Homo sapiens: one gene and its partner. The protein of the gene in region 1 interacts with the protein of each later gene in a pairwise test. Each region holds a gene or a part of one and is shown on either strand. Other genes may lie near its edges.

Region 1 (3,558 bases):
GTTCCCTTTGAGTCTCCTTGAAGTGCCATACAGGTCACACATGTGTGGCCTGCTCTCTCAGGGGCTCTGAGTCAAGTAAGTATTCCACCCCATATGCTTTCTGGTGCCTTTGGAACTGACAGCACCCTCTAATTAAAGGCAGTGGGTGGCGTGATGACAGGATTAGTATCAGTGTCTGGCTTCCCTAAGGACCAGGGAACACTGTGACCCAAGTTTTCCCATCTGTGTAATGGGATTTTTCATATGTTTACATATCTAGGGGTAAAATCTAAATGGGGGTGGTGCTTAATTTCTCTGGCTTGCATATGCTCTACCTGTTTCAGGAAAATCGTAGAGAGGAGTCCTACAGGAAGTGTGTGACTGTTTCGCTTCATTGAAAATATAGGGTGCTATGGCTTTAAATACATTGGTATTCTGCCCCTGGCTTCACTGCAGAATGAACAACAATGATGTTCTGCTGAACATCAATTCCAGACGTTTTAGAAAGGGCTCAGCAGTTTCGTGAGAATGAAGCTGTATTACTCAAGTGTAATGAGCCAAAAACATCTTGTTTTTATGCAGCACTAGTACAGACCCATGCCCTGGACCTGTAAGTGCCTTTTCTGTTCATTGTAGGCTTAGAGGGCACAGGGTATTCACTCAGCCTTATCAGCACAAGTGTGAAAGGAACATTCTGGCTCAGAGAATTGAGTTGAAATGAGTATCAGGGACACAGCTTTTGCCAACTAATTATGGACTGAATATTCAATCCAGGTTTGCAATGTGCTGCTACCGAGTGCCTGCCCCACCAAGAAAAGGGTTTAAAAATGGTCAACTCAGAGTAAATTATTTTACAAATCCAATATTTATTTTATCTTGTATGTACAAAAAGTAAACTCCAAGTGAACATCAAATCAAATCTAATCCTTTTGGCCACATGACTGGTTGTTCTTTATCTCATAGTTACAATGAATCATATAAACTGTAGACTGCCACTACCACGATACTTCTGTGACACAGAAGGAATGTCCTATTTGCCTATCTATCTGAGGAATGTTAAATAGAGAAAAATAGATTATAAAACAACCTGGAGGTCACAGGATTCTGAGATAATCCCTCTGTTAAAAAACATCTGAACAGCAAATGTCCAATCTGTAATAAAATAGTTAAAGGTCCAAGTCAAGTCCACTTCTACTTGGCTGGCCCAGCACAAGAAATCTAACAGCACTTTGTAATCATTTTGCTTTTCTAATTTTCCCGGAGGACATGGGCCATTGACATATAAGGAAAAAAAACAAAAACAAAAAACGATTAAGTAAGTTGTGTGATCCCTAACCTGTGAGTTCAAAGGAAGATTTTGCAGGGCACCATTATTTCCATAGAAGATTCTTTTAACAGAGATGTCATTTCAAATCTAACGTAGCAATGGTGTGTTAGGATCACCCAGAATGAAATGACTCTGCTGATTTATGGCAAAACAGACATACCTTGGGTAAGAAATGAAGCCAATGATAACATCACACATGCAAAGATTTTTTTAAATAAATTGAGCTATATAGTTTTATTCTTTTTGCTAAACTCAGTTATTAAAAGGTTTCTTAAGAAACTTAACATCTTTGCGCAACTATGTCACTCAAGTGATTTATCTACAGGTTTGTTTTAAACCGCTAAGCATCCTGAGTCCATTTCTTTGCCTGGTGCTTGCACACACAATTTTCTTAGAAGGAGGCAACAGTTTCATTAACATAACTGAGGACAGAAATCAACTTGTTCTGGTCACCAAATGTCTTGTGTATATTTAAAAATATAACACGAGAAAAAGAAGATACTTTTTAAAATTCAGAATCTGTAGTTTGTAAAACTACTATCATTTTAGCATAAGTTCAGTGCTGACCTTTTCAGATCAATCATAAATAATAAATTCTCTCAAGAGAAATATTTCTAGTGGAAATGGGAAAGATGTGAACTAAAGCTATAACCCCTGTACCCTAAATATCAGCCACTTTGGGCTTAGCACTCTTTTGCGGGGCGGTGATAATACTGCATTAGAGCACATATGAATATATACCTTAGTTTACGCAGACAGAATATATGACATTTTTAAGTGATATACATTTGCTTGCGGTATCATTTCTAATATTATCAGTACTGTCATTATACAAAAATTTTTTTGAGCAATGATTGATAGTAACCCATCATACATGCAGCTTATGCCTTTCTGTGGCAGGATGAAAATCAATTTATAAACATCTTGTGACAAGCTGGAATTCAGTTATAGATCAATTACAGATTGCTCACTGGACAATCAAGGACATTATTAGAAAACGGTTTCCACCACTAGAAATTCATCTACATTGACATCCACCTAAATATCCAGAAGGTCATCCCCACTTTCGTCGCTCTCCACAGTCAGCTGCCGGGTCCACCACTTCTTAACTTCAGAACCGCAGGAAGCCGCGTCAGTCATGGGGTTCATTTTGCACACGACAGATTTCATGGTTGTCCTTCCTCCAAACCGTAAGTTGACTGAGGACACTGAATGGCTTATTGGTTTTGGGGCTGTGGAATTAATGAGTCCTATGAGCCACTTGGTATTGCTTCACCCTATTGTAATCACTCCTAAAAACCCATGATATTCCCATCAGTGATACTTTTGGCTAACGTGTCCTAGCCACAGATGCTAAGTAAACATCCTTTTCAGGACTTGATTCTTTATGTTCACGATAGATTTTTTTTTTAATTGTGCTCATGGACAACTAATGATGTCATTTGGGAAAAAAACGTGCTGCTCACCCCTTTCATTTTGAAATAATTAAAAAAACTAGAAAATCACTAAAAAAATTCCAATTCGGGAACTATTAAGTGTCACAGAAACCTGTGCATTCATTAGCATATGCAATAAAAAAAACAAAAAGGAAGGAGAGTGTGACCCACAGTAAAGGCGAGGGGGGATGCAGTGAGGGTATGGGAGGAAAGGTGTGGTTCTGGGGCCTCACAGTCATGGTGTTGGGACCCACCTCTGCAACCTGTGGATATGTAGCTATGGGCAACTTCACGTCTCTGAACCCAAGTTTCCTCCATTGTAAGATGAAGACAATGAAAATGTCCTAATTAGACTATTGTCAGGATTAAAACAGGTTACATGAGATGACTTAGGAAAGTGCATAGCATGACACCTGTGACATTGTTGCTGCCCCCTCAAAATACTATTTTTCTTCTCCTCTGCCTCCTCAAACTCAGCCTGACCCCAAGAGCATGTCTATTTCACGATCACCGTTTTTGGTGGGGACCACCTAGGCATGGACCAGTGGAAGTACTTTTTTTTTTTTTTTTTTTTTTTTTTTTTTGGGAGACAGGTTCTCACTCTCTCACCCAGACAGGAGTGCAGCGGCACAATCTTGGTTCACCACAACCTCTGCTTCCCAGGCTCAAGTGATTCTCCTGCCTCAGCCTCCCAAGCAGCTGGGATTACAGGTGCACACCACTACCGGTCAGCTAATTTTTGTATTTTTAGTAGAGACAGGGTTTCACCATGTTGACCAGGCTGGTCTTGAACTCCAGGCCTCAAATGATCCACCT
Region 2 (3,925 bases), on another chromosome or scaffold:
CTACAATGTTTCTCGAGCAGCTGGCAATTTCTCCTCTCCAGACGGTACCACCGATGACCCTCTGGGAGGTCATACCGTCTGGCAAGTGGTCTTCATCGCTTTCTTAACGGGCATCCTGGCCTTGGTGACCATCATCGGCAACATCCTGGTAATTGTGTCATTTAAGGTCAACAAGCAGCTGAAGACGGTCAACAACTACTTCCTCTTAAGCCTGGCCTGTGCCGATCTGATTATCGGGGTCATTTCAATGAATCTGTTTACGACCTACATCATCATGAATCGATGGGCCTTAGGGAACTTGGCCTGTGACCTCTGGCTTGCCATTGACTACGTAGCCAGCAATGCCTCTGTTATGAATCTTCTGGTCATCAGCTTTGACAGATACTTTTCCATCACGAGGCCGCTCACGTACCGAGCCAAACGAACAACAAAGAGAGCCGGTGTGATGATCGGTCTGGCTTGGGTCATCTCCTTTGTCCTTTGGGCTCCTGCCATCTTGTTCTGGCAATACTTTGTTGGAAAGAGAACTGTGCCTCCGGGAGAGTGCTTCATTCAGTTCCTCAGTGAGCCCACCATTACTTTTGGCACAGCCATCGCTGCTTTTTATATGCCTGTCACCATTATGACTATTTTATACTGGAGGATCTATAAGGAAACTGAAAAGCGTACCAAAGAGCTTGCTGGCCTGCAAGCCTCTGGGACAGAGGCAGAGACAGAAAACTTTGTCCACCCCACGGGCAGTTCTCGAAGCTGCAGCAGTTACGAACTTCAACAGCAAAGCATGAAACGCTCCAACAGGAGGAAGTATGGCCGCTGCCACTTCTGGTTCACAACCAAGAGCTGGAAACCCAGCTCCGAGCAGATGGACCAAGACCACAGCAGCAGTGACAGTTGGAACAACAATGATGCTGCTGCCTCCCTGGAGAACTCCGCCTCCTCCGACGAGGAGGACATTGGCTCCGAGACGAGAGCCATCTACTCCATCGTGCTCAAGCTTCCGGGTCACAGCACCATCCTCAACTCCACCAAGTTACCCTCATCGGACAACCTGCAGGTGCCTGAGGAGGAGCTGGGGATGGTGGACTTGGAGAGGAAAGCCGACAAGCTGCAGGCCCAGAAGAGCGTGGACGATGGAGGCAGTTTTCCAAAAAGCTTCTCCAAGCTTCCCATCCAGCTAGAGTCAGCCGTGGACACAGCTAAGACTTCTGACGTCAACTCCTCAGTGGGTAAGAGCACGGCCACTCTACCTCTGTCCTTCAAGGAAGCCACTCTGGCCAAGAGGTTTGCTCTGAAGACCAGAAGTCAGATCACTAAGCGGAAAAGGATGTCCCTGGTCAAGGAGAAGAAAGCGGCCCAGACCCTCAGTGCGATCTTGCTTGCCTTCATCATCACTTGGACCCCATACAACATCATGGTTCTGGTGAACACCTTTTGTGACAGCTGCATACCCAAAACCTTTTGGAATCTGGGCTACTGGCTGTGCTACATCAACAGCACCGTGAACCCCGTGTGCTATGCTCTGTGCAACAAAACATTCAGAACCACTTTCAAGATGCTGCTGCTGTGCCAGTGTGACAAAAAAAAGAGGCGCAAGCAGCAGTACCAGCAGAGACAGTCGGTCATTTTTCACAAGCGCGCACCCGAGCAGGCCTTGTAGAATGAGGTTGTATCAATAGCAGTGACAAAACGCACACATCAACCCACAGACCTTAGGAGGAGGAAGGCGAGGGCGGGGTGACTTCTGGTGATGATAAAAATGGTTTTATCACCCAGATGTGAAAGAAGCTGCCTGTTTACTGATCCATTGAATAAACCCATTTTAATAGAAAAAGTCAATACCAATTCAGCAAAAAGAAAAAAAAAACATACTACTGAATATAAAGAAATTTATTCTGAAATAGACTTTACGTGTTTTTTTCTTAAAGAGGAGAAAAATATTGCTTGACGGCAATTATATACCCAAAGTGATTTGCCTGGGTCCTTTAATTCCCATTAGCTTTGGAATCTCAGATGAGCATAGCTGACCCAGTTCCCACATTCTTCCCAAGGATCCCAAAAGTGGGAATCCAGACCCCAAGTGGAACACTGCAGGCTTACGAATCTGTGGTTCCAAAATTATTTCATACGTTGCAAAGCTGAATCTTCTTGTCCCAATAGAGCTTCCTGTCTTTTCTTTGGTGTGTTGTTAAACTCTATTTGTGGACTTGATTCTTGATTCTTGCAAAGTACTGTTTTGTGCAGTTCAAGTTTCGTACAAATAAAAATACTTAAGTATATATATATGTGTGAGTTCTGCACGCACACACATAGTGTATATAATATCATGGGAAACACTGAACTGGCAAATTATTCCTGCAACATACGCTTTCAGTACTTTGGTAACTGAAGTTCTCTAGGATCCTAATGCAACATTAACGTGAAATAAGCCCAGTGTAATGTTTTTGAAACCAGGGCTGTTTTCCACAGAGAGCAGCCAGGCCTTCCCAGCAGGTCTGTGCAGAGCGGACAGGCTCGTGAGTCAGCTGAGCGCCGTGGCTTCGCCAGACTTGGTGTTAAGCAACCTCCTTTGTTGATGTCTCAACAGAGCTAAATCGGGGCCCCTCTGAGCTCAAAGAATGAACCACATCCACACGTTTGAATTTAATCATCTAAATCTGAATGTTTCAGAACAAAATTTCTGCTATCTAAACTGCTTGAAACTCAATAATAGTGTCACGTTTGAATGTCATACACAGCAATATATATATATGTGTATATATATATATATGGCAAAGCAAAAAAAAAAACATGGTAAGAGAGAATGAAGGAGAACATTGTGTTTGATTCTTGCTGAATGGCACCTTCTCAAAGAAAATAGGGCTTGCACCTTTGTTAATCAGCTGTGGCCAGTGCTTTCTGGTGTTCATTGTGTAACCTTCACCCAGGAATAGGTGAGGTTTTAGGAAGTTACATGTCCTCTGAAGAAAGAATTACACTCTGAAAAGTAATGCTTCAAATTGATTTCCTTACCTTTTGGGAAAAAAAAAAAATTGTTTTTTTGCATTCTCCCTTGAATTGACCAAAATGTTAACTGTTTCATTTGGGGAGGGGATGGGGTGCTGCCATCATTGTCGTTGTTGTTGCTGCTGTAGCTGTTGGGGTTTCTTTTCCTGTTGCCGGGGCTGTTTGGGGAGAGGGAGGGGAGGGAGGTGGGAGGGCCGCGGAGATATCTTCCCTTTGTACAGGGCATTCGTGTTGTGAACCCAGAGCTGGGTAGAAGCTGCTTTTGTATTCAGTGTGAGGTGGTGTTTACAGACGACTTTGACAACAGTAGAAGTGTACTCAGTGGTGTCTGTGTATCTGAACTATTTAATTTCGTGTTATGTTTATATGCAGAAATATTTATGGATACTACACCAAGTGTTTATTTAATGTTGATAAATATGACTCTTCAGTCGTCAGCCATGGTGTCCTTTCAAAGTGATTCTTTAAGGTCCACTTGAGCAATGAATAGAGTATATTGGAGCTTTCCTGTGGCTAAGAAGAAGAAACATGTCATCCTGTTGGCATCACCAAGCACCTAACTCTTTCTAGGTAATAAAAAGTCAACGGTCACTTCAACGTAAATGTTTAAAACCACTCTTTAGTTAAATCTGATGGGAACTGAACAAAGCTCCACCATTGTGTCTGAAATCATTTTACACAGGGAAAAAAAAAAACAATCAGCATAATTGTAAGAATGATTTTTTTGGGCCCACATTCAACCAAAGAACAAGAAAGAAACAGACGATTTTCTAATATGTACACAGCAAACTACAGAATGTCATATTATCCACCTGTGAAACATCTAGTAAGCAATTGCATCTATATTTTATTTCTCAAGTTGGCCTGGCACTAATAAATATGTGAAAGCTTATTCAAGTGTCCCAGTACTTCAGCACTTCCC

The links.
Region 2: the proteins of NALCN (region 1) and CHRM3 interact in binary tests that used the Homo sapiens proteins (3 or more experiments, as listed by UniProt).

The regions. Positions count from the first base shown.
Region 1 is NC_000013.11:101,052,951-101,056,508, forward strand, and holds the end of NALCN (sodium leak channel NALCN), read right to left. Parts: intron 2,539-3,558; coding exon 2,345-2,538; 3' UTR 826-2,344; downstream 1-825. UniProt on the Homo sapiens protein: Voltage-gated ion channel responsible for the resting Na(+) permeability that controls neuronal excitability. NALCN channel functions as a multi-protein complex, which consists at least of NALCN, NALF1, UNC79 and UNC80.
Region 2 is NC_000001.11:239,907,568-239,911,492, forward strand, and holds part of CHRM3 (muscarinic acetylcholine receptor M3), read left to right. Parts: coding exon 1-1,657; 3' UTR 1,658-3,925.